3 separate regions of the Homo sapiens genome follow, and all the other regions are linked to region 3. The links come from fine-mapping of genetic effects on gene expression. A gene starts in region 3. Each other region holds a variant in brackets. All regions are shown on one strand. Distances are from middle to middle. Region 1 overlaps UBAC2 (UBA domain containing 2). Region 2 has its middle 38 kb from the start of LNCARGI. Region 3 holds the start of GPR183 (G protein-coupled receptor 183).

Region 1 (8,067 bases), 70 kb before region 3:
CACAGGTCTTGGCAGAAGAGAGCGTCTGCTGTCACAGCTTGCAGCGGGCTCGCTCTTCATCCTCTGCGGGGCAGATCATGCCCCTTTAGCCAAAGCTGGCTTCAGAGCTTTAAGTGATTTTTATGGGTGAGAAGACAAGTGTGACAGGAGAACTTTCACTGCCCACTGACCTGTTATTTTCACCAGATTAAAAACTATTGCTAAGTAGCAATAATGTTAGCACAGTTCTTTAAAAAGAATAAACAATTACACTAAGAAAGGGCACCTGAAGGTTTCCCATAGTGTCCAAAACTAAACATCCATGGCAAACTGAAACTGCATGCTTGGGCTTGGGTATGCGATGACAACCAGCCAGCAAGGACGAGAAGGGTCAGGGGATAGGTGTTCCGATGGGTGCTTACCCAATACTCCCCAGTGGAGGGGTGCAGTGCAGTGCTCACAGCCGTGCAAGTTAGCCAAGTGGCCCCTGCTGTCCTTTCTTTATGTAGTTTCAGAGGTTCACCATATAGACAGTAAGAACTGGAGCAAAAACTAGCAGCACAGAGAACAGTTGTCTGTAGGGCTCTTTGGTGGACACTAACAATTACTGCTGTGGCTCTCACTATTCCTCTGCTCAGAGAAGCCCAGCACGCCCAGTCCCCACACATCTCATTACGGTCTCTCCTGGGAAAGCTTACTCGGCATGTGAAGCATCAACTCCTGTGCTCAAATTACAGAAAGACGAAATTGAGGCCTGCGCAGACGTGCAGTCAGGTAAGCAAAACACACGTTAAGCATTCCTAATCTGAAAATTCAAAATCGAAAATGCTCCAGAATTTGAAACTTTTTGAGTACCAACATGGCAGTACAAATGGCAAGTTCCACACCTGACCTCATGTGATGGGCTGCAGTCAAAATGCAGGCCACAACATGTAGTTTATTCAGTGTCTCCAAGGGAAAAGAGACCCTCTCACCCTCCTTCAGCTGTGACATGCCTTTTCTGCACATGCCCCGACTCCCCCACGCAAGCACATGCCAGTGGGCAGGTTCCCCACAATGACCTGCATGGGGCCAAAACCCACGTGCGTCACTCACTGTGCTTTTTTGCTTACTTTCTGCTCTGTGTTATAAAAATGTTGTTAAAATATCTAAAAGGTGTGCAGATACCCTCTGGGTAACAGTGATAAGAAAAAGATTTATGTTTATCTATAGCACAGAAAGTCAAGCTGTTGGAGAAAGTGGAGAGCAGTGTAAGTGTGAAACGTCTTACAGGAGAGTATGGTGTTGGAGTGACCACCATATAGGATCTGAAGAAACAGAAGGATAAACTGTTGAAGTTCTGTGCTAAAAGTGATAAACAGAAATTAATGAAAAATAGAGAAACACTGCATAAAGCTAAAAATGAAGATCCTGATCATGTACCGAGGATGGATCCCTTGGTGTTGCAGTGAACACCTGCCACTTAATGCTATGTGGGTCAGGAAACAAGCAAGGATCTATCAGGATGAGGAACTGAAAATGAAAAGGAACTATGAATATTCAACATGTTGGCTGCAGAAATTTAAGAAAAAACATGAAACCAAATTTTTTAATGTGGTGACAAAGCATCATGAAGCAGCAAAGAAATTCATTGGTGAGTTTGCCAAGGTCATTGCTGACAAAAATCTGATGCCAGAACAAGTCTATAATGCTGATGGAACATCACTGTTTTGGTTTTATTGCTCCAGAAAGACACAACTACAGCTAATGAGACAGCCCCTCCAGGAACTGAGGACATCAAGGGCAGAACAACTTTGCTGGGATGTGCTAATGCAGCAGGCATGCATAAGCGTAAACTTGCATGACAGGCAAAAGTTTGTGTCCTTGCTGTTTTCAAGCAGCGAATTTCTTACCAGACCATTATTATGCTAACAAAAAGGCATGTTTAACTAGGGATATCTTTTCTGATTGGTCTCACAAACATTTTGGACCTGTGGCTTGTGCTCACTGCAGGGAAGCTGGGCTGGATGATGACTGAAATATTTTGTTATACCTTGACAACTTTTCTGTTCATCCTCCAGCTGACATCTCATCAAAAATCATGTTTATGCCATGTACTTTTCCCCAAATGTGACTCCATTAATTCAGCCATGTGGCCAAGGTATTCTTAGATCAATGAAGGATAAATATAAAAGTACCTTCTTGAACAACATGCTAGCAACAAATGAATGGGTATGGAAGATTTTCAACAGGCGTTTAGCGTGAAGGATGCCACACATGCTGTTGCCAATGCATGGAACACAGTGACTGAGAACACAGCTATGCAAGCCTGACACAACCTCTGGCCTGTGCTATGTTCAGTGATGATGACGAACAAGGTGGTGACTTTGAAGGATTCCACATGTCAAATGAGGATAAAATGATGCCTGACCTCCTAACAGGTAAAAAATATACCTTCGAGTCTGTCAGTAAGCCAGAAGAAGTGGATATTGAAGTTTTTATTTTTTATTTTATTTTTGAGACAGAGTCTTGCTCAGTCACCCAGGTTGGAGTGCAGTGATGTGATCTCGGCTCACTGCAACCTCCACCTCCTGGGTTCAAGCCATTCTCCTGCCTCAGCCTCCCAAGTAGCTGGGACTACAGGCATGTGCCACCATGCCTGGCTAATTTTTGTGTTTTTAGTAGAGATGGGGTTTCACTATGTTGGCCAGGCTGGTCTCGAACTCCTGACCTCAAGTGATCTGCCCACCTCGGCCTCCCAACTTGCTGGAATTACAGGCATGAGCCACTGAGCCCAGCCAGATATTGAAGTTTTTAATATCGATAAGGGGGCTCCAGCTGTTCATTAACTGACCCATGGTGAAATAGCTGAGATGGTTCTGAGTCAAGGTGACTGTGACAACAGTGATGATGGAGATGATGCTAACGCTGCAGAAAAAGTGTCTACAGACGACACAGAGAAAATATGTGATGGGCTTACTGAAGGACTAGAGCAGCATGCATTTTGGATAAGGGATACTCAACTTGTAGGGACAGAAAACCAGGTTCATGCTTCCGTGAAATAAAAATGCAGGGGAAGCTGCATGCTGTCTTAGGTCTGACTCCAGCGCAGGGTGGCAGGGAGACCCGAGCTTTGGAGTTGGCCCCGTGTGACCACATGCAGGGGACCAGGCTCTGACTCTCTGTTTCCTCGCAGTTTGGGAGATGAGAGGGATGCATGTGAGAAGCCCAGAACAGTGACGGGCACATGACCAGCGCTCAATAAACATGACCTCTCAGGACCACTATTCTCCTATGGAGGGCAGCGGGGCCAGGTGTGTGGTGGGCCCTAAAGAAGTCAGAAAGACAGGAACAATCTTTTTAAATGGTGAGCATAACATTCTAACAAAAAGACTGTGTTGTTCTAAAATACACTTTATGTATTTATAAAGTTTAGCAAATACACAACTCTGATGACTATATAAATAATGGTATTATAGATGGTCAGCCCATCTCTCTCCCTATCGAAAGCACCACATTTTAGCCACAACACACATTAACTCACACTGAAACCCTGGACTACTTCATTTTCTCTGCAGGCTGCTTCCTGTCTCTGTAGTCCAGCTACTGGGATGAGAAGCATCAGAACTCACCATGAGCACCTGATCCGATCTAACATCCACAGGAAGAGAAAGTTTCAATGTAAAATCTCCTGATGTCAAGTTGTTAAAGTACAGGAATGAATGTTTACAGGTCTCCTCTGCTCTAAGGACTGGCACTAGGTACTTGCATGAGTTGGGTACTGGGTTAGGGCCTTGCATGGATCTGGTCTCCCTCATAGACGGTGAGCTCCCTTGAGGGCTGGCACCAGGCCTGGCTTGCTTCCCCCCAACACAGAGCCTGACACACCCGGTGCCCAGCACCAGTTAGAGAAGGCTGAATGTGAAGATCAAAAGTGACCAATAAACATGTGGAGGACAAAATGAGAATGCTGGTAGGACACTGAGACTCTGGAAAAGACTGTGCTAGGATAGACACTTGTTCTGGCGTGAGTGGAGGCAATGGTGAGGCGAGGCGAGGCGAGGCACGGCGCTGCATACTGCAACTTCGTCAGTGTTGGCTTCATGGGCTTGCAGTCATTCATTGGTCTGGAAAATTTTAAAAATGTCTCAAAGAAATTTTCTAAAAAGGTGTTCTTTCAACATTCCCTCTCCATCTCAGAGCACAGCGAGTACCTTCCTCCTGCTCAGGCATCACAAGAAGTTTCTGCCTAAAAATCCTCACCACAAAATATCAGATTAGAGTGCAGCTTGGTTTCTAGCCCCCAAATCGAAATGATTCCTTCCTCTAACTTCATTGAGAAGCCAGCTCTAGTTGGGTTCGCCTCCAGCATGCTTTGCTTTCCTGTCTTCCACATCTACTTATTTCTTATTTCTAGACACTAACATTCCCCAAATGTAACATCCAGAGCCTGCTTTCCGTAACAGGAAACCTGACTTCCAGAGGTGAGGAGCAGAGATAAGGCTACTCAGAGGACACCAAGGTGCAGCTGGTGCTGTGGCAATGGCAAACTCCAGCTCCGCCCTCACGGGGATGAAGACCCACTCTGGAGGTGTCCAGGGTGCCCCACCAGAGCCCCCACAGGGATGAAGACCCTCTTGGAGGTGTCCAGGGTGCCCCAGTGGAGCAAGGTGTGACTCCATCAGTTGCCTTTCGTCACGAGCTTCTGAACCACAGGCGTCAGCAGCCCTTCACCAGCCCTGGTGTGACACTTCCACATGGCTGGCTGACCAAGGCAGGGGAGCATGACAGAAATAGGCGTTGCCACAAGAGCACTGTCACTGTCACCTGACAATGTTCCAAAGGAGAGCAAGATGGAATACATTCCCTAATAATGTGCTTTTCAGAGAACCCACTGAATGAGGAAAACACCCTAGAGATGGAAATAAATCTGTACCAGTTTCTCTTTCCTTATTTTTTATTTTTAAACATCTATGATTGGGATGTGTGTGCCTACTACCTCAAGATAATTCTCATTTAAGAAAATGCCAGCCTGGGCAACCCTTGTCTCTACCAAAAAAAAAAAAAAAAAAAATTAGCTGGGCTTGGTGGCATGTGCCTGTAGTCCCAGTTACTCAGGAGGCAGAGTTGGGAGGATGGCTTGAACCCAGGAGGTCGAGGTTGCGGTGAGCCATGATAGCACCACTGCACTCCAGCTTGGGATACAGAGCAAGACCATGTCTCAAAAAAAAAAAAAAAAAA[AAG/G]GGAAAAAGGAAAAGAGAAAAGAAAATAAATGAAATCCCACTTTGGTATTTTACTTGCAATTCAACTCCTCTTTGACATAAGTAAAATGGGACATTCATTCCAATGAGATTTCTAGCAACTCCCCTCAGTGAAAGACTCCTTTTGGTTTATTCAAACTAGAGTGTGGTTTTCTTTAACTTCCCTTTTAGCTAAGTGCGTCAAAAACAAATGTTTTTTTTGGGTTTTTACTTCCCATATTCTGACGCTTGCAGAAAGCGATGCCCACCTGAAGACGGCCCCCACCCGATCCTGAGCTCACACTGGGTGCAGGGTAGCATGCACACCCTGTTGGGGGAGCCCAGATGTGCTGGGCCTGCCTCGCCCACTGCTGTCATAGCAACTGGCACCGGTTACCTGTTGGCACCAGCTGCCCACCCCCATGCTGACGCATGGCCGAGACCCTTGCAAGGCAGTGCAGCCCCCACCCCCCTCTCCCTGTCTGACCACTCTCTTCCTTGGGAGAACTGCAGATCCCCCCTCCTTTCACATCTCTTGGTTGAACTCAGGTTTCTGGTTATTACAGACCCTGCCAGCGTTCTGGGCTGCTCTGAGACCAACTGTGTCTAGAGCCTCGTCAGGGTCTTGTATGGAGCAGGTCTTTAGTTAAGGCTGGCTGAGCTCCTTTGTGTACATCTCTCAGAGCACCCAGCAGAATGAGACACCCCACAAAAGTTGGTTACTATTTGAGTACCATCTAGTATTTCATTGTAACACATCTAACTTTGGGATCTTGTTAGAAAACGTATTTCCAATCTACTAGAGCAAGCAATGGAAAAACCTGGCATAATACCACTCTCTAGCACATTTTTTATGTGAAAACAAGAGTTCTGAAAGGGAAGTTTACTGGCCACACCTTCGTGTTCAACCCTTCTCCGACCGATGCTGGGGCACCTGTGTGTATCAGGCTTTTCATAGGGTAGCAAACAAGGCAGACATGGCCCCAGCCCTCAGGAAGCTCGCTGTCCACAGGGAGACCAGACGCCATGGGAGGCTAACCCAATACCCAATGTGCTGCCATGCTTGGCTACTCAGAGCAGAAGCACGAGATGTGTCTCAAAACCAATAAATATTAGAGCCCTGCTTTCAGAAGGTGAGCATTTTAGGAGTTTCGGTGGGTTTTCTGGAGACAGTGGTAAGGATTCCTGAGATGAGAAGAGAGGAGACAGCCTCATTAAGATTTAGATTCTCTAATACTAAATACATTTTGCTATTTATCAGCTAAGAGTGAAAGCACCTTGTGGGTTTAAAGCCATTCTCTCTACTTGGGCTAATGGATATCTCAGAGACATAAACAGAATCCACACGACGTGTCATGTGAATTGACCAAAATTATGGGACGCCATTGTTTTGGGCTCCAACAAACCAGAAGACCAAACTAAATGGAGTCACTCATGCTAAATGCCACACAATCAAATTGAAACTTTAAGGAAGCAGACAGATCCCAAAACAAGAAGACCTGCTTTTTCTAAAAATAGGAGATCCCAGACTACACAAGTCAGCATAATAAGGAACTCCCCTCTGCTTTAACCCTTAAAAAAAAAGCAACCTGAAGTAACTCAATGTTAACCTATCAGTTATTTTTCTATTGCTCTGTTTCCTTCTTACAAAATGCACTGTTCCAGTACTGCCTGGCGGGAGCTCACATTCTGTTTTGTAGAATGGAGGCTGCACTAATTCATAAGTTGCAAATAAAAGCCAAATAGATCTGTCACTAAATTTGCTGTAATTCTGTCGTTTGACATGCATTATAAATGTATTATTAATATTAATGCACCAAATGGTAACATCTCTTGTCTGGGCAGTTGCACCATGTTTCCTGGGCCTGGATAGAGAAAATTATAAGATTATAACCTGCCCCCTCCTCTGTGTCCAGTCCATCCTCTTGGGAAACCCAATGATGGTGTTTCTTGTGTAAGATCCCGCATGGTTCCTTGGTGTCTAGAGTATAACCACATGCCACACATCAGACCCTTGGCGAGCCTGTCTGGCCTCCTTTCTGTCCAGCTTCTAGAATCCCAAGAAGTGCCCCGGCCCTCCAGTCCCCTCTACTCCAGCCCACCCATCCGTGGCTCCCCACCTCCCATGTACTTGTCTTCAGGCCCCTCCTCTGCAACACCACTGCCCTGACGGCCTTTCTTGGCCTCAGCAGCACCCGAACACTTCCACAAGCTCTTTGTCCACCTGTTTCCCTGCCCTGGGCTCACAGCTCCTCAGGGCAGGACATTCCGCCTTATCCATCTTAGTGTTTTCAGAATTCAGCACAGCGCTTAGCCCCGGTGCAGAGCAGACAGCTGGTCACTGTCAGCTAAAGGAAAGAAAGACATGAATCGAAGAGAGGAAGCTGAAATTTGCTCATCTTCCTTTTGTTAAATCCCAGCTTTGGTCTAGTCTTATTTAACTTTCTTGTCTGATTTTACCTAACAGTCATTTTCTAAGCTTTGGGAGGGTCAGAAGAGATACACTTGATGAGTTTTTCCCCCTTTGGTTTTAAAAAAATCAGAAGCAAATATGAGAAAAATTTAATCATTTGTTAATTTTGAGTATGGGTCATAGTAGTATAAAGATACCTGTTTAAAAAAAAAAAAAAAAACAATAAAAAAGAGAGAGATGGAATAATGGATATACTTATTATTATTATTTTGAGACAGAGTCTTGCTCTGTCACCCAGGCTGGAGTGCAGTGGCGTGATCTCAGCTCACTGCAAGCTCTGCCTCTCGGGTTCACACCATTCTCCTGTCCTCAGCCTCCCAAGTAGGTGGGACTACAGGCGCCCGTCACCATGCCCGGCTAATTTTTATTTTTTTATTTTTTAGTAGGGACAGGGTT
Region 2 (8,067 bases), 88 kb before region 3:
GGTCCAAGGCCATCTGCGTTTGCTAAGTGGCTTTCTCCAAAGGTGAAATAAACTTCTCATAGCTTTTGATGGCGGACAGTTTTGCAGGGAGCAAGGGGCCCACCCTGCCAAAGGGAACAGGAGGCAGAGGCACTGTCTTCCTTGATGATGACATTTCAAAGAGATGGCTCCTGGGTCCTTGAGGAGGACAGTCCTGTTTCATACAACTGGTAAGAGGCTGGGAGAAGATTTCTGTCTCATAGAGGCAGAGAAAGAATTGACAATTGCAAGTTTTCTAAAGTAAATGCATCAGGGGCCTATAAAAGGGAGGTCAAAGGCCTAGAATGAGGAAAGAGCCTGCTGACAGCCGAGTCAAGGCGAGGAGAACCTCAGGGCCGTCTTGGTCACACCGAGCCCATCAGGCCCTCCTGGTGCAGCCAGTGTCTGCTGAGAACCTGCAGTGGGCTGGGGGGCTCGCGGTGGTTCTGACAGGGCTGCTGGGCCCGCTGTTGACAGCAGCTCTCCCATTTACCAAGGCTTTGATTTTTGCAGGCCCTGTGCTAAGCCATTCACAGAGACTATCTTGTTTTGCATTTCTCGTGATTATTTCATTTAGGCATCACTATTATTGGCACACAACAGATGAGGAAACGGGGCCATCAAAGTCACACGGGGGTGGACAGCAGAGCTGAGATTCAAAGCCACGCCTGATGGCAAAGCCCATGTGCAAATTCACGCTGGTCACAAAAGGGCTGTGAGAGCAGACCCCAAGCTCATGACAAGATCAGCGTGACCCATGGTCAGCCCCCCTGCACCCCTGGGTTTCCACAGAACTCATCTATGGCAGCCTGCCCTGGGACACTGATTGCTTTAGGTTCGTCCTAGACAAAGCTCTTCAAGCTTTCATGCTTTAATGTGGACACAGGCATCACCTGGGGTCTTGTTAAGATGCAGCTTCTTCTCCAGTCAGTCTGGGCTGGGGCCTGAGAGTCTGCATGTCTAAGCTCTCAGGGGACACTGATGCTGCTGGTCCAGGGGTTGTGTTTGAGCAGTGACGGCTCAGAAGACGCCACATTCAGAGGTGGCGGGACCTGTTTCCCTCCTGGCTTTCTTTCCTTATCAAACCGTTGGTCCTCAACTTTGGCTGCACATGAGAATCGTCGGGGGACATTTAAAAAATCCTGATGCCCACTTGGGTCCCATCCCCAGAGATGTGATGTAATTGCTGTGGGTGTGGCTGGTGTTAGGATTTTCCAAAGGTCTCCAGTGATTCTGATGTGTGGCCTATTCTGAGAACCAGAGCACTAAAGAAAAGAAGAGATTTAAGAGACATTTCAAAGGCGAAATCAAGAGAGGAGGCCCGCCTGTGGTTTTTTTTTTGGAAAAATAAAGTGAGTGATTATATATGAGAGGTCTCCAGAGAAACAGAAGCAATGTGACACACACACAACGCACACACAGACACACACAGGCACACGCACACATATGTGTGTGTGTGTTTGCACCATAGGAGTGGTACCTGGCAAATCTGAAATCCACAAGGGAGGCCAGGCAAGCCGGAGACTCGAGCAGAACTTCTATATTGTGGGATTGAGGTAGAATTGCTTCTTCTCCAGAAAACTCAGTCTTTGCTCTTAATGCCTTCAGCTGGTGGGGTGAGGCCCACCTTCCCCCTCTTATGGAGGGTAATCAGCTCTACCCAAAGTCTACTGATTTAAATGTTAACCTCATCTAAATAATACCTTCCCCACGACATTTACAGCAGTGTTTGACCAAACAGCTGGGCACCATAGCCTAGCCAAGGTGACACACAAAATGAACCATCACAGGTGACTTCAAGGTCAAATGTCTATGGGAATGTGAATAAAAATAGGAATGATTGGTGGGGAAGTGGGTTTGGGGACAATGTGAGTGAGTCTGATAGGCCAGGTCCAGGGCCCCTTTTTGAAGACCTTTGCCAATACCTGACTCCGGCCCACTGTGGTAGTTGGTTCGAGCTGCTGTAACAAAGTGCTGTGAACTGTGAGGCTGAAACACAATGGAAACTTCTTGTCCCACAGTTCTGGAGGCTGGAAGTCTGAGATACGGCCCTGGTGGGGCTGGTTCCTTCTGGGGGCTGTTAGGGAGAACTTACCATTCCTCCCCAGGCTGCTGGTTCTTGCTGGAGCTCTTTGACGTTTCCAACCTGGCAGATCCATCGCTCCAGCCTCTGCCGTCATCTTCCTGTGGCCTTCTCCCCCTCTGTCTCTGCCTTCACCTGGTGTTTCTCTCCTCGTATAAGGACACCAGTCACGTTGGGTTAGGCCCACCTTAATGACCTCATCTTGGCTTGATTACATCTACAAAGACCCTATTTAAGAACATACAGATGCCAGGGGTTAGGACTTCATCATATCTTTTGGGGGGACTCGATTCAGCCCACAACACCCACCCATTTCTGAACACCCCTCTTTCCAGACACTCTCCCTTTCTCTGAGTCCCATCTAATCTCCCACTTCAAGCCCCCACACACTGCCTCAGAGCCCGACTGCAAAGGTGAGGCTTGGAGAAGGAATGAGAGGGGTCTCTTTTAAACATTAGTTGCTTTAAAAAAAAAAAGTTTAACTTGTATGCTTTGTTTTTCAGACCCTATCAAAATAATCTCGTGTCAAAATGGAAGCATGAGAGGGACCACTTCTAAGGGTTTCCTCAGCCCACAGGATCAGGACAGAGGCAGGGCACAGGCCAGGAGAAGCCCTGTCAGCCAGGGCTCTACATTGCTCTACAGTAATGAGGCCTTGAACCCTGTTCCCTGGGGACGGACAGTGACCACCCAACCAGAATGTCCAAGGATTTCACCACTGGCTGGAGGATGGTGTAATGACACCTAAGAATTGTAATCACTTGACATTTTAAGGAGGAAGAACAGAAAGTTTCGTACATCATATTTGTAGATGCTCACATATTCCGATGGGCTTTTGGCTTTCTCCAAAAAGCACATTTCCACCGAGAGTCCCACTTCCTGGGCACTGCTGCACACCGCAGGTAACCACTGTCCAGCTTTCACTGCGGTTCTCACTTCGCCAAGTGACAGCATACGGGATGGCACAGAGACTAAGAAGTTCCCCTGGCCTGTGATGGTTGTGGGCAGCCAGGCTTGGGGCAGGCCGTGCCACCTGAGGGCACAGCAACCCTATAGCACATGGGTCAGACCACACCTCAGGCAACGCGAGTGCCTCATGGTATGGGCGCCCTGTTCCACTATAATTGTAGAAATCTGGGAAGTTACATTTTCTAATGCCAAAGGCCAACTTCACCTTCTGAGGCTTGGATCTGTGGATCCTAAGGAGTCTTGACACATGGTCTGCTGAGCTCTGTGATTAGCAGGACAGGCAGCGGGGGAGCTGGTCTCAGGGGGTGAGGAGCCCGTGTGTGTGTGTGTGTGTGTGTGTGTGTGTGCAGTAACACCTAATATAAGCCTCTTGGGTAGGTTGCAATAAGGTGTAAAATGCTATAAATTGACCAAGGTAGAACATTGCCAGAACTTCAGTCCCAGGCTGACTCAGCTCAATCCCCGCGTATAAAGGACTGCTCTCTGAGACATGGGAGAGGATGCGTGCACCAAGGGCAGGGCGGGGACCTTCTTCATCTCTAGTAATTTATGATTTTGTCTCTAGGCCAATACTCATCTTCCACATTCATTCCCACATTCACCACGTGTGGTTCTGGGTGTTGGGGACACAGTGGGTAGACGTGGTCTCCAGCCTCATGGCCCAGGTAGGCCAGCAGGGGACATACAGAATCAGACAATTACAACGTAACATGTGAAGTGTGTTAGGTGCTGGGTGGAGACTGACGTCGGAGAAGGGGTTAGGGAAACTCTGGGAGAGCTCCCGAGTTTGGGGTTGGGGGACTGGATTGAGGGTGCTGTCACTTCCTGAGATAGGGAGCGTGGGGTCAGATGAAGTTTGAGGGTGGAAGACGTGGGCTTAGGAGCCCTAGGACAGGCACATGGAGGTGTCCAGTATAAAGTGGGACATACGAGGTGTGCAGTCTGGAAGAGCGATTTAGGGTGAGGGTACGGGTTTGGGAGGGGTGAGGTGGACGACAGTCCCAGGGAGAGTTGAGGGGCTTCTCTAAACTGTAGGCTTTATTGTTTCTCAGGTATGATGAGGCCAACAGATCAGCGGCCGAGCACCATTGAAAAGACAGTTCGTTACTCACAGCTCCCAAGGAGAGGGGCACACTCTGCC[A/G]CCCAGGCCAGCCAGGGGAGAACCAGGGCTGGTCAGCAGGCAGAGGGAGGGTCAGGAGAGCGTGGGCAAGACCTTGAATGTGGTTTCCACGAGAAGCATCAACGGGAGGGGGGCATGCAGGCTCTGGGGCAGAGGGGCTGTCCTTAGGGGCCTGGTACCTGGTACTGCTTGACAAGGGCAGGGGCATAGTGGCCTGGAGTGTGAGAGCCCCAGACAGGTGGTGGAGGTCGGGGGTGCAGGCATTGGGTTGGCTGCCTTGCCTCTGAACAGTGTGCTCCCTTCAGGCCTTTTTCTGTCTCTAGGGATTGGCTGGCCCCGGGGTACAGGGTTTGTCTCTCCAGGGTCAGCAAGGCCCCAAGATGTGAAAGCATTGGAATGCAGAGAGTAAAAAGCCCTGGCTAACACGGAGGGCTAGAAAGGACCCAGGAGCACCAACATTCATGGGGAGGGAAGAGGCTGAGGAAGCTGCGGGAGAGACAGAGAGGCGGTGGTGTGGGAGCCAGGACAGGAGGCCGCTGCTCCAGCCATGGAGCCGAGGGGGTTACCAGCAGCCCGAGAGCGGGCCATAGCATCCAGCCAAAAACTGGCCATTGAGGATGGAGGCCAGGTGTTCGGGAGCTGAGAGAATGGGGACAGTGCATGTCACAACTTGTTTCAAGGAATTTGTCGTTAAAGAAATACCCTAGACTGGGTAATTAATAAAGGAAAGAGGTGTAATTGACTCACAGTTCTGCATGGCTGGGAGGCCTCAGGAAACTTACAATCATGACAGAAAGTGAAGGGGAAGCAGGCACCTTCTTCACAAGGCAGCAGGAGAGAGGAGTGAGGAGCGAAGGGGGAAGAGCCCCTTATAAAACCATTAGCTCTTGTGAGAACTCACTATCATGAGAACAGCATGGGGGAACCGCCCCCATGATCCGGTCACCTCCCACCAGGTCTCTCCCTAGACACATGGGGATTATGGGGATTACAATTTTCTTTCTTTCTTTTTTTTTTTTTGAGATGGAGTTTTGCTCTTCTTGCCCAGGCTGGAGTGCAATGGCGTGATCTCGGCTCACCACAACCTCCGCCTCCCGGGTTCAAGTGATTCTCTTGCCTCAGCCTCCCAAGTAGCTGGGATTATAGGCATGCACCACCATGCCTGGCTAATTTTGTAGTTTTAGTAGAGATGGGGTTTCTCTATGTTGGTCAGGCTGGTCTCGAACTCCTGACCTCAGCTGATCTGCGCAGCTTGGCCTCCCAAAGTGCTGGGATTACAGGTGTGAGCCACCACACCCTGCCCGGGGATTATAATTTTCAAGATGAGATTTAGGTGGGGACAAAGCCAAAGCATATCATTGTCCTTTTTCTTTTCTTTTTTTTTTTTTTTTGTAACCAGAGAAATTGCTAGGGAAGTGTCAGTAATAAGGGCAAAGGGGGAGATTCAGAGGAGGAAGGAGGAGATGATGGACAGAGGGCTCCTGAAGCACCCCTTTTAAACACAAGCCTTTTTTCAGGGGAGAGGAGGTGGTGGGCGCAGAGACAATTGCACCGCTGGCAAGTGCCTGGGGAGGGCGGCGCCTCTGTCCTCCTGAATCTTTTCCTGCTTGGCAGGAACATTTCCCAAGGCCAGCCAATTAAAGGTATTTCAAAATCTCTATTATTCACTTTCAAAATCAGACCCTAGCTTATTATTTGTTGGTATTTCCAGTGGTACTAAGAATATGCCACGAACTCAGCATTCAACAGTTTAGGAAACAGAGCCGCACTCCCCATCTCCCTCGCACCCATGGGAGCTCTCCAGGCGGGTGGAGCTGAGCAGGGCGTCTTCCCATCTTACAGGAAGGCCCTGACATCCAAACCACACAGCCTCGGGGGACAGGAGGGGCTCTGCCTAGAGTCCCAGTGCATTAGATGGCTGGATTATAAGAGGTCTGGAAAGTGAAGGCTGCCCCTTTCTCTTCATTCATCTCTGTGGCCTATTGGGTGACGGTCAGCCGCAGTGTCCTTACTTCTCCCCTCGAGGTAGAAACCTTGAACAGGAGGGATAAGGTTTGGGAGCAAACAGGAATCATCTGGAAAGTGTGAGAATCCGTGGGTAAACACCGAGGAAAAGCTGTGCCCTCTCCCAGGCCGCAGCAGGGGCTGGAAACAGAGCCTTCACATGAGAAGAGAGGAGTGGTGTCAGAGGCTCCCCCAGACGGGAGTCTCCCCGACTCTCGGTGCTCAAGCTCCAGGCTGGAATCCCTTGCACCACGCTGCCTGGTCTACACCCCGTCCACCCAGCTCCAGGGTTCTGGAGCTCTCCCGGGGAGAAGGGGTGCACAAGTGTATAGGAATCTCTGGAAGAAGTTGGCAAATAATCAAAAGAGGGGAGGGAATATATCTTTGGAGAATTTCAACTTTTGATTGAATACGTCATAATACAGAAGAGTACATAAAGGAGGTATGTAGGACATTTAAAAACCAGTAAAACAGACACCCTGTACCTCCACCCAGTTTCAGAAATTCAAACTACTGGAGCTTCTGAAGCCCTGGGGTGCCCTGCCCCAGCCCTACCCACTGTCTTCCCCTGCCCCCAAGGCAACTGTATGCTGATTTGCTTTTATCATTTTGAAGTAGTTCTGAGCTCTGAATTTAGAAATTTCGTAATTTGAAATGGCCATTCACATAATCAGGAATAAGACAGGCTAGGAGTGAGTGCTTGGCTTTATTCTTTTTTTTGAGACAGAGTCTCGCTCTGTCGCCCAGGCTGGAGTGCAGTGGCGCTATCTGCAACATCTGCCTCCTGGGTTCAAGCAATTCTCCTGCCTCAGCCTCTCAAGTAGTTGGGATTACAGGTGCCACAACCACACCTGGCTAATTTTTGTATTTTTAGTAGAGATGCAGTTTCACCATGTTAGTCAGGCTGGTCTCGAACTTCTGACCTCCAGTGATCTACCCACCTCGGCCTCCCAAAGTGCTGGGATTACAGGCGTGAGCCACCACACTTGGCCGCTTTATTCTTTTTTAATTAAAAAAAAATTAAATAACCAGCCACGGTTGGGTTTGCATTTGGGTGATCTCCAAGTAGGAGCCTCATCACGTCTCCCCAGGGCTGGAGAAGGGTTTGCCTTGGCTGCTCTCACTCTGTTAAGGGGGTTGGTTTTTTTGAAGTATTTGCTAGACTTTTTATGTTTAAGCAAAATAAATGCACCCCTCCTTTAAACAGGCCTTAGTGTTAGTATCACATTCATCTTTGTGCACATTTAAGTACAGTAGGACCTGCCTGCTGAGAGGAGGCAACCTGCCCTCCAAAGAGACTGCCTATTTTGCCAAAGATCTCTGTGGTCCCGACAGCTTTGTTCATATGAAAAACTGGGGTCAGCCATATGTTACATGAATGTGGGTTTTACAAAATCTGCATCGATAGTTCTAGGCTGATCAGCTTCCGGATATAATATGGTGCTTCTGTTTAACCTCCTATTAGCATTGTATGATAGGCACCCCGTACACAGAACTGCCAAGATAGCAAAAGAGCAAAACTGGCTATGGCCCCGTGAAGCACCGAAAGCCTTGTTGAACAGAAAAGTCCATTACGTGGGCTCCTATATGATTGTCTAGGGGCAGGGGAAGGCAGAGGATGGCGGGAGCTTCTCCCACCCGGGAGCAGAGCCGTCTCTGATGCGGCAGGGCTGATCGGAAGGGGAAGAAGTGGCTTCCCTGGGCCCCCAAGGAGCAAGAAGCCAGTCCCTGGGGCCCGTTGCCACCACCTCCCAGGGCCCTCGCCTTTGGTGTTCCCAGAGCCTCTGGCAACTCCTCCCTTTACAGTGGGCCGGTGAACACACTGGATGGAAGCGAGGGAAGCTCTCCCAGGCCTTCCCTGACATCCGCAGTC
Region 3 (8,067 bases):
ATAACTAAATAACCTAAAGCAGAGTTCTTTTTTGAGGTTACATTTCAACGTAAACTAAAAAAAATACTGGTAGAAATTTTAATGACCACAGTTTACATTTCACATACCAATAGAAGTTTAAAAACTCCTTTAAAAATATTAATCACTGTATAATTTTAAATGATGACTAAATACTAGGCCACACATACACATTTCAGACCAAAATTATATGGGCTGTTCTGCAGAAATTTTCCGTTGCTATTTCTACACACACAGACTTCACAAAATACCATAATGTTATTAGTCACTGACCAGTCTTTTTCTTTTCCTTATTTTATGACAACATCTGTTCTCTATACTGTCAACAGTAATTCAGTTTGACCTTTTTCATACTGTGAAGAACTACCTTCTGGAAGCCCTTTCTGGCTTAAGCAGATGAGGCTGGTAGCACAGAAAAGAGAAAGCAGGTTATAAACATTTCATCCATCCTTTCTTTTTTTCTTGAGACACCGGTATCTGTCAGTCACCCAGGCTGGAGTAGAGTGCAGTGGCATAATCACGGCTCACTGTAGCCTCTAATTCCTAGGCTCAAGCAATCTTCTCGCCTCAGCCTCCAGAGTAACAGGGACTACTGGTGTGTGCCACCACACCTGGCTAATTTTTAAACTTTTTTTAGAAACAGGGTCTCGCTGTGTTCCCCACAGTGATCTCAGACTCCTGGCATCAGGCAATCCTCCTGCCTCAGCCTTCTGAATTGCTGAGATTACAGGCGTGAGCCATTGCTAATTCATCCTTTAAAATCACTAATATTTACTGAGCATCTACTGCTATATATTCATGATCGCACTCGATAGAAAACATAAAATAACAGAGACACCTTGTTAAGGTTGCAAATGTCCATTTCACTTCTTCTATAGAAAAGGTCACTGGATGTGGTGGCTCATACCTGTAATCCCAGCACTTTGGGAAGCCAAGGTGGGCAGATGGCTTGAGGTCAGGAGTTTGAGACCAGCCTGGGCAACATAATGAGACCTTGTCTCCACACACACACACAAAAAAATACAAAAATTAGCTGGGCGTGGTGGCATGTGCCTGTAGCCCCAGCTACTTAGGAAGCTGAGGTGGGAGGATCACTTGAGCCCAGGAGGCAGAGGTTGCAGTGAGCCAAGATCGTGCCACTGCACTCCAGCCTGGGCAACAGAGTGAGACCCTGTCTCCAAACAAACAAACAAAAAAACTGTAAAGGCCAACTCTACTTTTACAGTACAATCACAACTCAAGAAACCCTGGTAACTTTCAACAGCAATAAAAACAAGGTTTGTGAGCTCATGAAATGATCTAATATACAGCTTCAGCGGCCTCTTACAGGATAATGACCCCATCACCTCTTCTTCATCTGCCTGACTACTCTGATATCAAAAAAAAGGGGCTGGGCACGGTGGCTCACACCTGTAATCCCAGCACTTTGGGAGGCCAATGCAGGCAGATCATGAGGTCAAGAGATTGAGACCATCCTGGCCAACATGGTGAAACCTTGTCTCTACTAAAAATACAAAAATTAGCTGGGCATGGTGGCATATGCCTGTAGTCCCAGCTACTCGGGAGGCTGAGGCAGGAGAATTGCTTGAAGCCGGGAGGTGGAGGTTGCAGTGAGCCGACAGCACACCCCTGCACTCCAGCCTGGTGAGAGCGAGACTCTGTCTCAAAAAAAAAAAAGAAGGTTGGGAGGACAGATCCAGTTTGTCAGAGGAATTACTTGAACTAGCTGAGTCCTTCACTATATAAAAATGTTTTACTTAATATAACTATTTCAAAATTAACAGGCAAAACCCCACCAGAATGGTCTTTCAACAAACTGAAAAATTTATCAACAGTGTCTTCTTCAAGTACTCTGCAGCCTAAGTTTTAAATGAACTAGTTCTAGAATATGATGTCATGTTTATCCACCAAGTCATAAAATCTCTGTATTACCCCCTCATAGAATTTTTGTACTAGGAATTACCTTGGAGATCATTTAGTTCAATACCTTTATTTTATACACAGTGAGGTGGCGGCCCAAAGAATTCAGCTGACTTGCTTGATGCTCTTTCTTGTGTCTGACAATGTTCCTCCATACTCACAGCACTTTAGACGTTAGAAGAACCTAATGACATCTGTGGGAGGCAAAAGCTACTCGACTATTTTTACAGAATCCTGGAGCAGAAAGGCTTCTGAGATCACAGAGTTACAAATTCCTACCAAATGATTCAATTCTGTTTACATCATCCCTCAAAATCATCAAGTTTACTCAAGCATCTAAATAAGAAACAGCATATTCCATTTTTCAAAATAATCACAACTTTTGGGAATGACTCTCATCTTTTGATCCAAAAGCTATGTCCAGTAACTTCTTACTGACCCTCCCGCTAGTCTCTGGAGTTAGGAAGACTGACACAAGCAATGTAAACACTTTTCTATGAGAGTTTCCACAAGCATAAGGATAATGACCCTATGCCTACAAAGCATACACATCCCCAGCTTATTTAATCAGTTCTCCTAAGACCTGCTATCCAGGCCCCTCACTGCCACAGGTGTTATCTATGTCTTCGTAAAAAGCAGCACCCAGAAGTGGCTGGGAATGGCCAGATCAGTCCTGACTAAGTGTAAACATCACCTCTCCTGATCTGAGTGCTACATATCTGGTAATTTAGCCTACAAATAAACTGCATTCTGACAGACACGTTAGTTGGTTTAAACTGAGTCAACTACAACTATGAGGTGAATGGCATGAGTCTCTTTCACCCTGTGCTGAAGAGGCTGGATTTTATCTATAATGGGCCTCCCTTCAACTGTTTCCCTGTTATTCAAGTACTCACACAGCCTCTGACTCAGGCAGCCTCTCGACTGAAAACGGCGACTAATCCAGTCCACTCCACATCCTGGACTGTCACTCACCCCCACGCCACAGAAACCTGTTTCTTTCTCATAAGCTGTGGATAAGGTGGAATGTGTAAACTACTCCCTGATACCAAGTTTCCAGGTAAAAAGCACTGTCAAAGTTGACACTATTTTCCTTAAAACATTTAAAAACCCATACTTTTACATGCAAAATCAATATAAAATCATCAGTAACTTGGTCTTTTTTTTGGTTAAGGTTTATTGCTTCAGTCTCTTTCAAAGAATTTTTTGATACTTAAACCTTTACAGAAAAATTTATAAAGTTCCACAGATATCAACAATTCATAAATTCCAAGGGGCTTTTGGATAGTTTTTTTTAATCACTATAAAAAATTTCACTTCCCATTTAAAACAAAAAAAAACACAAAGTGCACACACGTACACGAGGCTAACTGCTCATTACATGCTCAGTCACAGGGTGACAGAGAAAAAAAAAGTCACCACCATAAAAGGAGGTCTGCACAGCCTCTCTTAAAACAACATGCCACAGTTAAAACTTACTTCAGTTTGGACAACTACTCACAGCTACTACACAGAGACCCGAACGAGTCACTGATATGTAAGTACAAGATCTTTTGCTTTTTCAACAAACTTTTTAAAGAAAAACTTTAAAAGCCTAAGTTTTAAGGTAAAAGGTAAAAAGGAAAACAATCTATTTAAGAACAAGCTACCATCACTTCTAACAAAAATTATATTAATAATGTAAGTTTACTCTCTCTGCTGACTGGTAGGTCTAGTTAGTTCTTATAAAGTTGACTGAAAGCGATGGGTCCACCAGAAATATCTTTGTCAAAAAATAGGGCTCACTTCATGTACTACTGTATAAACTCACAATGACAAAAGACAGTATCAAGCAAAACTATGCAAATAATGCCAATATTTCAGGATAACTTAGTATGAAGGAAAAGGAACAAAGTTATTTTAATATAGAATATTCCTATGCTATAGGAATTATTAGAAATATAAGATTATTTCTCAGGATAGAATCTCAGGGGTAGAATTCCTAGGGCAAAGGGTATATTTTCTAAAGCTTTAGATATAAAACGGTACTTTTTGGTCTACAAAAACATTTTACCAATTTACCCTCCCGCCAGCAAAGAGTACCAATCTTTGCTTTTTAAATGCTAAATACTACTAATTAGATAAGTGAAAAAAAAGTCTGTTGTGTGGTTTATACTTGTGTTTACTTAGACTAAACGTATCTTTTCTATGTGCCTGAGGGGAAAAAATCACAATGAATTCTATGCAGTGCTTTGGCAACATTTATGTCCAGGTTGGGAATGGTGGTAACAGAAACTTGGCAAAATAGAAGCTGTGAAGAGACTTCCTTTAAAGGGCAGTGAGGGTTTTATATATGTGTGTTTGTGTGTGTGTTGGGGGAGGGGGGCGTGGTATTTTGTTTTTTTGGTGTCACTCTGAGTACAATATAGTGTAATAAGAGCAAGGGCTCTGAAATCAGGATCAAATGAAATTTACAAGCTGTGTGGCCCCCCCACACACAAGTTACCTAATATCTGGCTTCAGCTGCTTTACCTGTAAAATGGGGAGTATTACTACTGCCAAGTCCTTACAACATTGCCTCTCATTATAAGTGCTAAAAAACTGTCTCCCATCATTCTTCTCCCATCTCTCTGGCCACTGACGTACCAGAGGGTGAATCCAACAGATATGTTATGGATATTTTACATAAAGACCCTGAATCAGGCTGGGTGTGGTGGCTCACTCCTGTAATCCCAGCACTTTGGGAGGCCGAGGCAGGCGGATCACCTGAGATCAGGAGTTCGAGACCAGCCTGGCCAACATGGTGAAACCCCATCTCTACTAAAAATATAAAAGTTAGCCAGGCACGGTGGCACTCACCTATAATCCCAGCTACTCAAGAGGGTGAGGCAGGAGAATCCCTTGAACCTGGGAGGCGGAGGTTGCAGTGAGCCGAGATTGCGCCACTGCACTCTAGCCTGGGCGACCATGCGAGACTCTGTCTCGATAGATAAATAAATAAATAAATAAATGGCCCTGAGTCTATGGATGATCACACATCTAACTGTGCTTACTGGTAGGACTGCACACTTCTTATATTTTAGCATGTTTTCTCTCTGCGGGTTCACTGCACTTTTTGGACATAAAACCACAAAGAATATGCTACTCCACAAAATGTTCACTCACATGTTTATGTATCGCGTTAGTGACAATGGTAATGATCCCTTGCATAAATTACTTTCATCTGGCTTCCTAGAGCTAATTAGTACCATGACCAGTCAGTTAATGGAATAAATATTAACTCAGGTTTCTATATGACTTTAATTCATTTATTTATTCTATAGATATTTACTAGATATCTATTGTAGGTTGGTTCTGTAGCATTCTATAGGATAAAATGTTGGATGAGATCAAGTCATCATCCTCAAGAAGCTTACATTTAAAAGAGCTTCGCACCTAATAAAGCCGTTTACAGGGATACTTTTCTCTCTGCTATGGTTAAGACCTGCTGGAGTTGTTAGGCAGCCCTGGACGTGGCCTGTGTAGAGGACGCGTGGTGTTCTCCAGTCTGGGGGGTTTATCACCTTCTCAAGAAGTCTGGGCATTGTATAAAATGAGATAACACATGTGAGAATCCTCTGAAAGCTGTGACAGTAACACAGATGGCTGTGGTGTTTTGGAAGCCCAAAGAGAAGAATAAAAATATTTTGTTAAATCTCTGCAAATATCTAAAAAGTAGTTTAAAAATCAATTAACAGCATAAAAGCCTATTCTAGATATTCACCATCTTTTTTCAATCGAAATTTCAGTCTAAATTGTTTTATTATTAAAATACTGTTAAAACAGTACTCTAAATCCATTTATAAAACCTTTACTTACTTTAAAATATGCTACAAATAAACTAATAAACTCCTTCATTTGAATCAACATCTCTTCCTCCCTGCTCCCATTCCCTTCCCCCAGTTCTCCTAGTCTCTCTTGTTCAGATAGGTATGAGTTAGTGTACGTTAAGGTTTTGAGATGCCTTCCTATTTTACTTGTTTTCTACCCATAATAGCAGATCACGTCGGAAATAGGAGATAAAATGTATTGTACTGAATGTGACTTCTGAAGCCAAACTGCCTGGGTCTGAATCCTAACATTTAACAGCTAGGTCTTTGGTCACTTAAGTGCCCTGGTGCCTCCGTTTCACCTTCTGTCAATGGACTTGTGAAAGTTCTGAGAGGATTCAATGAGTAAACACACATAGAGTGCCCAGGGCAGTGCCTGGAACACAGTCTCTGCTTAGTAATTTTAATTGATTATTATTCATCAAGGGCTTACTGGGGTGTAATAAAGAACCTTTCATTAAGGATTAAGAAAGCTGCAATGTTGCTATTCTTTAACTAATGGGTATTTATTGAATATCGATCATACATCACCTAGAGATACAAGAAATTAACACCATAGGGTCCCCACTCACAGTACTTCACAGGCTCATGGGAGACAGGGAAGAAAATCAATGATGCAGACACTATGACAGAGCACAGCACTCTCACAAATACACCCACACTGCCTTTCAGAGGATGGAGAACAGGAATGCTCCTGGGATACTTAGAACTAAGGCTTGAAGGAAAGTAAGAGCTAAGGATACAGGATAGGGGCCAGAGGACATCAAACAGAGGGAAGAATGTTACCGGGCACAGAGTTGTGAGGGAACGTGGGATATCCAAAGGTTCTAAGTAATTTTGCATGCCTGGAGCCAGGCCACGATCAGGGGAAGCTGACCAGCAACCCTCCTGAAGAAGGAATGGAGCTCAGATCATGAGGGAACTTGTGTGTCATGACACAGAGCTTGTGGTTTGCCTGGGGTTGGATGGGCCCCGTTTGAGAGCCTGGCGGGAAGCTGCTGCCGTGGCTGCGGGCAGAAGGGCGGGAATGGCACACAACAGGCAGACAGACAGACACGGATGTGCAGCAGAGCACAAGGCTGAGGCACAGGGACTGCTCGCTGACCAGAGGCAGCAGGTGAGGGAGAACACGGAGTCCTGGGCGCCTTCACGACCCCTGCCTTGAGTACCACAGTAAGATCCCTGAGCGAATGACCGAGTTGACCTGGAATTCAGTTTATCCATAAAATAATGATATTTAATGTTCCTCCCTAATTTCCATCTGATAAGAGACAAAAACAAAATTGAAACTCCTTGAACTTGAAAGAGAAAAGGTACATATTATTTCCAGAAACATTCAGGACTCAGAGGAGAAATATTATAGACACAGAGCTTCATTATAAAGAGCCTTTTTATATTATGCAGTTTTCCCACATGCTGCATCCTACAAATCATGCCAGATACAAACACAGAATATCTTTCTTACACTAAAATGAGTATTATGGTGGGATTCTTAGTTTCTTAGTTCTCTAAACATATGTCATCTTCATCTTCAATAACTTCCATACTTTTCAATATAAAAGCCACCAAAAGCCACATAGGTGGCTTTTACCAGTGAAAGGTGAAAGAAAATAACTAGAATATGTGAAACCCCAAATGTGCAAGTGGGTGTTCAACCAAAGAATTCCCGTGCTCAAGCACCTTTCCATCATTTCCAAGGAGCGCGTCTATGAAGCCGAAGTGGGTCTTTGCTGCACATCCACTGGGTTCAGGACACATATAAAGCACAAAGAGGAAACAGTAGACTGCTAAACCCTTTTTCAGTCTTGAAGATGTTTTTCTGTCTTTTTCTGTCTTGAAGAAGTTCTCTGTACTTGGTCCTATAAATGGCCTTTCGCAGATCTATTGGGAGCTGGTCTGACCCAGGATATGCAATGGGGTTGGCAGGCTGGTCACAGAGCTCCTCAATAAGGCTGCCTCTACTAAGCCCCTCGGCTAGTCACACTCCATAAGCCAGAAAGCAAGCCCCCAGGAGGCAGGGGAGGTCCCCCAAACAGACGGACCACAGTCAACTCTATGCTGAATATCATTGTTCTCAATCCTTCTAAAAAATGAATCATGGACATAAACATAGCTATCAATTTAGGACTCAAAGTTGGCTGGGAAAAAGTCACCTTACAGTGTACAAAGATGTATTTAACCAGGCCACAGAGGCATGTACTGACTACTGTGACAGTTGGTTAGCAGCGTATTATTAATAGAATGGACAATTTGACTTTACTAATGAAGCACCAGGAGGCTC

The links. PIP is the estimated chance that this variant, and not a neighbour inherited with it, causes the effect.
Region 1: its variant is the best candidate, but not a certain one, in a credible set for the expression of GPR183 in whole blood (INTERVAL, PIP 0.51).
Region 2: its variant is the best candidate, but not a certain one, in a credible set for the expression of GPR183 in whole blood (INTERVAL, PIP 0.61).

The regions. Positions count from the first base shown.
Region 1 is chr13:99,372,936-99,381,002 of GRCh38, reverse strand. The region is part of intron 8 of UBAC2 (UBA domain containing 2); the gene reads right to left. Among named protein-coding and RNA genes, the nearest start is that of MIR623, 21 kb to the right of the region's middle. RefSeq lists an enhancer at 5,126-5,195. The variant AAG/G (reference allele first, on the strand shown) is at 5,200.
Region 2 is chr13:99,390,636-99,398,702 of GRCh38, reverse strand. No RefSeq gene overlaps it. Among named protein-coding and RNA genes, the nearest start is that of LNCARGI, 38 kb to the left of the region's middle. The variant A/G (reference allele first, on the strand shown) is at 4,212.
Region 3 is chr13:99,302,748-99,310,814 of GRCh38, reverse strand. It overlaps GPR183 (G protein-coupled receptor 183), which reads left to right and starts at 3,416. Exons shown (of 2, transcript NM_004951.5): 1 at 3,416-3,475. The region is part of intron 4 of UBAC2 (UBA domain containing 2); the gene reads right to left. RefSeq lists enhancers at 6,222-6,768, 6,769-7,317.